Linked DNA regions of Homo sapiens. The protein of the gene in region 1 interacts with the protein of each later gene in a pairwise test. Each region holds a gene or a part of one and is shown in the gene's direction. Other genes may lie near its edges.

Evidence for each region.
Region 2: the proteins of GPRASP3 (region 1) and MPP1 interact in binary tests that used the Homo sapiens proteins (3 or more experiments, as listed by UniProt).

Annotation. Positions count from the first base shown.
Region 1 is NC_000023.11:102,744,743-102,748,242, forward strand, and holds part of GPRASP3 (G protein-coupled receptor associated sorting protein 3), read left to right. Parts: intron 1-1,236; exon of another isoform or gene 1,237-1,432; intron 1,433-3,074; 5' UTR 3,075-3,169; intron 3,170-3,500. UniProt on the Homo sapiens protein: Survival and differentiation promoting protein that plays a role in the regulation of neurosynaptogenesis. Induces phosphatase PP2A activity which results in APP dephosphorylation and inhibits BACE1-mediated processing of APP.
Region 2 is NC_000023.11:154,788,486-154,791,985, reverse strand, and holds part of MPP1 (55 kDa erythrocyte membrane protein), read left to right. Parts: intron 1-138; coding exon 139-217; intron 218-917; coding exon 918-1,003; intron 1,004-1,963; coding exon 1,964-2,032; intron 2,033-3,500. UniProt on the Homo sapiens protein: Essential regulator of neutrophil polarity. Regulates neutrophil polarization by regulating AKT1 phosphorylation through a mechanism that is independent of PIK3CG activity.

The DNA of each region.
Region 1 (3,500 bases):
CTCTGGGCTAAGCCCTGGGGTTACAGGCAGCAAAGACACACCTATGAATTAGCATTGATCTGCAAACCACAGAGGGTACCATGGAATTGTCATGATTCAGTAGCCCCTCACCTCCTTCAACCCTTGACTGACTATACCGTCTACAATGTGCTGAGAATACAGTGGGGAACAATACCAAAAGGGTACTTTCATTCAGGAAACTTCCAGTCTAACAAGTCAAACTCCCCATCGCTTGGAAGGGAGAGTAAAAAAATATATATATATTCAGAAGAAAAAAGCACATGCATGCATTAGGCAGGGTGCAAGGCTGGGAGAAAAGGAGGAGTTGAGGAGCGCAGCTGGAATCTGGGATCTGCCTCGAGGAAGTGCGCGAATAGTGGTCCCCTCTCCTCCCAGAACAGTGGAGAGGCGCCAAGACCATCCCTACCTGGTGCCATCAAAGAGAGAGGACTGTTACGACCTCCTGCGAGTCCTGACAGGGAAAGGCCCTCTTTTGGGGTCAACTGTGGGGACGGCGCAATGCCAACCTGAGCCACCATTTGAAATGAGAAAAAGCGGCGTGGCAGAAAGAAATGAGTCTGGTACAGACCAGTGGTTGGTTTCCTAGGGTTAGAGGTCTAGGTCTACCTTCTGTTAGAAGAGGGGCAGTGGTGAGGCCTTGATGGGAGCCCCCTGCCCCAGAATTCACTTAAGAGCAGGTGTACCTTCCTCCCCTGCGTGGCTCCATGAAGCTGGGAAAGAAACGCACAAGAGGACCACCCTAGAGGCCCAGGCTTGTTTGGCCTGAAATCGCCTCACCCCTCCCAGACTGCACTGCTGACACCCCCTCTCCCATTAGCTTCCAGGAAGGAGAGTGAGAGGGCTGGGGAGAGGGAAGGGGCAGACACCCAGCAGTCCCTGGTTGGGGAGTTGGGGCGGGGGTGCAGACACACCAAGGGGCGGTTTGGTATCCATCCGCTGCTCCCTCCAGCGCGGCTCTTCCCAACCTCCTGATCCTGTCCCCTGCCTGGGTCCCCAGCCGCCCGCCCGTCCCTATATTATAGCAACGCCAGAAATGTGGTGGTGGTGGTCGCCACGTTAGGGTCCGCGGGGGTCCTCCTGAGGCAGCCTGGTGCCAACCCGCAGGCCCAGGCTGGGGCTCGTCATGGCCCCGCCCACCTCTGGGTCGGAACTAAGGTGGGCCTGAGAGGGGGGCGTCGAGCACTTTCGCGCCGTATCCCTCCGCCCCCCTTCCCGACACCCTCGCGGAGAGAGCGGTTCTTGCAGCATCCTGCGCAGCCCCTGCCCAGTTTGGTGCAGAGGCGTGGGGGGCGGGACGCGTCTTTGCCATTCTGATAGCGGGGAAAGCGGTGAGAATCGAAGTGAGGAGCCGCCAGAGGAGAGCTGAGGAGAGGAGGGGGAGGTCGACGACCTGGGCCCTGGGCCTCTGAAGGCAAGTGGGGGTGCGTGAGCTTGGGGTGGTCCGCCAGGGTGGACCGGCTGGCAGCCTGCCCCGCCGACCCTGACATCCTGGCAAGGAGGAGACGATCCGGTCGGAGCCGGTCGCCGGAGAGAGGTGCGCAGTGCTCGAGACCCCTGGCGATGGGGAGGCGGTGACCGGTGCAGGCCGAGCCAGGCCAAGGGCTGAGGGGCTGGCTTGAGAGGCACCGTCAGATCGTCTGGAGGAGAACCGCGCTGACCGCCTCCAAGCCAGCTTTGCAGGCGCCGGCGCCCCGCCCTCGACGGTGTCTGTGCCCGGAAAGGGCTGTGGGGGAGCTCCTGCGGGAGAAATGGCGGAGCGGGAGCCATTGTGGGGGGCTCCCGGGAAGGCCGGGGGGAGCCGGCGTCCCAGCTCTGTGCCCAGCCCACGAGAGGTGGGCCGCGTTCGCTACTCGGGGCCCTGATTCCGGAAAGGGGCCTGTGGGACCCCGTGTCTTGGGTGCTGTCCCTTCCCACAGGCTCCAGGTGGTTGTTAAAGTCTCCTGTCTGCGTGATAGGTCTGTTGGGTTCTCCAAAAGTGGAACTTTGAGTGGGTGAATTATGAAGACACTAAAATGAAATGTTTAACCGCCTTTTATAATACCGCACTGTTTTATTGCCTTACATATTTAGATCCCCACATCCAGTTTTGTGCAAGCAAATAGGGTGTGGACTTAGTCGAATTTCACAACAGTGGTCCATGTAAATAACAGGGTAGTATTTTTCCACCTTTCTTGTTCAGGATCTGTTTTCTCAACATGCTGATCCACTTTAAGTAATGTAATGATGTGTGAGAATGTGGGTTCCGAGTAGAGGGGTAATCTTTTTGAAGGGTCAATTTAGAACATTTGAAGTCAATCTGCTTCTTCAGTTTATGGTTCTGGAAACCAAAACTCCATCTCCAGCCACTCCTCACAGACCCTCTCATTTTGGTGCAGAAATAGTCCCACAGAAGAATTCATGGCATTTCTGATGGTGGATATCTGAGGAGCTATGAGAGTTGGGAGACTTTATTTACTTAGTTTCTGATTCTCAAAAAGGAGGTGTTAGAATCCGAATTCTGGGAATCTGTCCATTAACCTGCTATTTTTCTACCATTGTTAACATAGTCTCTTGGGGTTATTTTTTGCTAGTTGCTCCGCCTTCTTTTTGTAGGGCGTGACTCTTCTTTGGTGGGAAGGATAGCATCTCCTGAGAACTCCTGCTGTATAAGCAGGCTGACATAGGTGGTGAATAAAGTAGGATCTAGGTATGCATGGGGAAGGGGAAGGACATGCACAGATGGTATTAAAATAACAGTCTCCATTATGTTCCCTGCCTGCCTTGTAAGTACAATTGCCTATGTTCCACTACCTATTTCTGCACCTCATTTTTTTTGGTTCAGGAAAGGAGCTGTAACTTCTATTGGGAAAATGACTGACTTCAAAGTTGGCAGGAGGTGTAATCAGGCTGCAGGTCTTGGGGTGATTAGGGAATCATTGAGGAAGAGCAGACAGGTGGGAGACATTTAACATAGCCTTGAATATTCAAAAGCATATGTTATAATCCTTGTTATAGGCATTAGATCATCTTAGTCTCTTCTGTTTTCTTTCCTCTGCCTTCCTTTCTATCCTTAGGTCTGTTTCTTTCTAGGTTCCTGTAGAGATCTGTATGTAGCTGTTCACTTGGAAGTTAATTAAGAAAGAACAAAAACTATTCATTTGGATTCAAGGTAGGTTTATGTGTGAGCACCCCCGTTGATTGGGGTTATGGAAAGGCTGTTGCCAAGTGGGTTAGACCAGATCATATCTTGGTGCCACTGTCTTCCATCTTTCTAGTCACCTCTGACCTCACATTTGTGTACAAGTGATGGGGTGGGGTGAGCCAGGATTATGCCTATGAGGTAATTGGTAGATATTGGGGCAGGAAATGGGAAGATAAGCCACAAGGAGTACTAGGAGGCCAGAAGTGTTATATAACCAAAGCCCTAGATTTGGAAAGGCAGAAATTGGGTTTAGAGATTAGAGTGTAGGTCTGTCAACCAAATACTCAGAACTCCAATC
Region 2 (3,500 bases), about 52 Mb from region 1:
CTTCATGCCTGTTCTAGTTGAGGACTATCCTGGGTATAAATGGAAAATATTTTCCTGAGAAATTACCGTAAGTTCTTTCTAAAATAACCTCAGAAAGAGCTTAAAATAAAGCTTATTGTGCCGTCGCCTTTATTTCAGGGAATCACGCTGAAGCTGAATGAAAAACAGTCCTGTACGGTGGCCAGAATTCTTCATGGTGGCATGATCCATAGACAAGGTACTCTGTGGGAGCTCTGGGTGGGGTTTGATTCAGGGATTAATAATTTACTCCCTGTTCAGTGGTGTGGGGCATGAAGCTTATAATCCTCCAAACTGGTAGCATTTTTGTGAGTGTGCCAAGAGACTTTTTGTGGCTTAATAACTGGCTCTGTAGAATCAGTACATGATAAGATCTCTATGTGAATTGCCCAGTGCCACCATCTCCCTATCTGAGCCTTCTTTCACACCTATTTATACCAATATTTTTCTAGTAAGTTAATATTTGAGCAATTGCCACATGCCACCCATTGCATTAGACTTGGAAAGGACAGCAGTACCACTTGGTAGCATTTTGGGGTTTGAGCTAAACAACAAAGAAACATGGAGCTTGCTGGTGAAAGAGGAGTACTGAGTTCTTTGCCTTGCTTTGTTATTCTTTTTAGTGTATACATCTGTGTCATAGTCTGGAGTCAGTAGCCACTCTAGTTCCAGGAATTTGAGGACAAGGTGTTTTATTGTGCTGTTGGACTACTGAGGCCAAGGAGGATGAGACCATCTTAAACTGTCAAGTCAAATGTTTTCAATCCTGAGTATTTGACACAATCTGTTTCATAACATGCTGTAAATCCTGGTTTCTCTTCTATGGTATCTTGAGTTACATTGACAGCTCCTGTTTGAACTTTTGTTCTTTTGTGGATTGATTTTTCATTTCATGGCAGGCTCCCTTCACGTGGGGGATGAGATCCTAGAAATCAATGGCACAAATGTGACAAATCATTCAGTGGATCAGCTGCAGAAGGCGATGGTGGGTATTTTCTATGCTAGATGAAGACCTTCCATTGTCTCCATAAGTGTTGATCCACATTGGTATCAGTGACCTCATCTCTCTGTCAAAGTATTTGTACCTTCTTGAGGGGGCTCTTTTCACTGCTAGTCTTTAATCTGTGTAAGAAATGATAATTTTCTGCCTTTATTTAGTAAAATTCTAAAGCAGGGCAAATAACCCAGAGCATCAATCTGGTGTTCCATGAAGTAATGCCAAATGAAGTAAAGCAAGCTATAACGTATATAGTAGAATCCCATTTTTGTTAAAAACAAACAATACATATGTATGCATAATGTATGTAAATATTTGTAATGCTTTTGTTGGTATGGGGAAAGGCGTGGATATATATGCGCCATAGTTCATTTTTAGGAACTTCTTCAGGACTTTTTGGGGTAAAGAATGGGGAAGAAAAGTCTTTTTTTTTTTTTTTTGAGATGGAGTTTCGCTCTGTCACCCAGGCTGGAGTACAATGGCGTGATCTCGGCTCACTGCAACCTCCGCCTCCTGGGTTCAAGCGATTCTCCTGCCTCAACCTCCCAAGTAGCTGGGATTACAGGTACCCACCATCACGCTGGCTAATTTTTGTATTTTTAGTAGAGACAGGGTTTCACCATGTTGGCCAGGCTAGTCTTGAACTCCTGACCTCAGACGATGCGCCCACCTCAGCCTCCCAAAGAGCTGGGATTACAACAGGCGTGAGCCACCGTGCCCAGCTCGGAAAAGTCTTTAGTTAGCTTTTCTTTGTTACTCTTTGCATGTCTTCATATTGTTATGCTGATTTATGGGGCACATGACACTTTTGTATTAAAGGAGGAATTGTCCTACAAAATCTCAAAATGTAAAGATGGTTGTTGGGGAAAAAAACCTGGGACTTTGAATGAATGATCACATCATTCAACTTAGTTTTCTGTACAATTTTATGTCCATTTTTTTTAATAGAAAGAAACCAAAGGAATGATCTCATTAAAAGTAATTCCCAACCAGCAAAGCCGTCTTCCTGCACTACAGGTGGGTGGCACCATTTTCTCTGTTGTCATGATGGCAGGAGTCGGGCCATGTTGTCTTATATTCTTTGAAATTTGATTATAAGGGATGTGAGTCTAACTTTAAGTTCTAAGTATCTCGCAAGTGTGTAGCTGCTTGGCTCAGGGTCCCATTATTCCCTGCCTGGTATAAAATACAGGAGCTCATTCCCCTTTCCTCAATGGAGAACATAGTGACGACAGGAGTAGAGAATGAATGAGCCTTTGCTGCTAGTGGTCAGGTAGGAAGGGAGAGGGTAATTTTATTCTACAGATGGTAAGGAATCAATACAGCTCCAAGAGGAAAATGGGTAAAGGGAATGAAGAGATCATTCACAGGAGGAAAACTACAAATGAGCATTGAACATATGAAAAAATATTTTATCTTACCGATCATCAAAGAAATGCAAATTAAAATATGCATGAGACACCAGTTTTCACCAAGCAAATTGGCAAATACTTTTTAAAATAGCAATAATAAAGCCCCGTGATTGATAGTGGCAAAGTAAAGAAAGAAACAAAAGATAGATAGAATCTGTTGAGCACTTATTCACAATTTATTGAGGGTCTACCATGTACAAAGTACTGTGCTAGAACATGGAGGTGATATAAAGAGAAATGGTTCCCAGTTCACACATAGCTCATCAGCCAGTAGAGGAATAGATTGGACAGGGCCATGGCAAGTCAATGTGGAAGAAGGAGATATTTAAAAGAATAAATCTGAAGTTTCTATTGCAGGTTACTTGTAGTGTGACGGTATAATTTTCTTAAGTAAACTTTTAAATTGCAGTTTTGGCATATATGGGCATATATTCAACAAAGGGCACAAATCACAAGTATAAAACTGGATGAATTTTCACAAACTGAGTACACCCATGCCTAAGACCGCCGCCCCCTCACCATGCGTGTTTCCTCAAGGCCCACCATAACCCTGACTTCTAACAGCAGGGATGAGTTTTGCCCCCTTTTGAAATGTATTAACGTTGAATTATACAGTATGAATTCTTTGGTGTCTTATTTTATTCGCTCAGTATTATGTTTATGGGAATCATCTATATTGCTTCATTCTCATTCATTCATTGTATGAACATGCTACAATTTAATCTATTCTGTCAGCTTTTTTGGTCTTACATTGAATGGCTGCCATTCACCAAACAGGATCTAATTCAGCAATATGAGAAGATTTACTGCCTGAAGGGCAATAAATTCACCACGTTAACAGAAAAATGGAGAAAAATCATATGATTTTTGTGCATGTGTTTTGTGGATACATCTATGCCTTTCTTTTGAGAGTAGAATTGCCAGGTTGTAGGATATATGTGTCTTCATCTTTAGGTGATATTGCCAAATAGTATTCCAAAGTTGGTGAACCATGTTACATCCCCAACTGCACAGTATGACAGTTCTGGTTGTTCTGTATTCTCACCAATACTTAGCATTGTCTGATTTGTTGG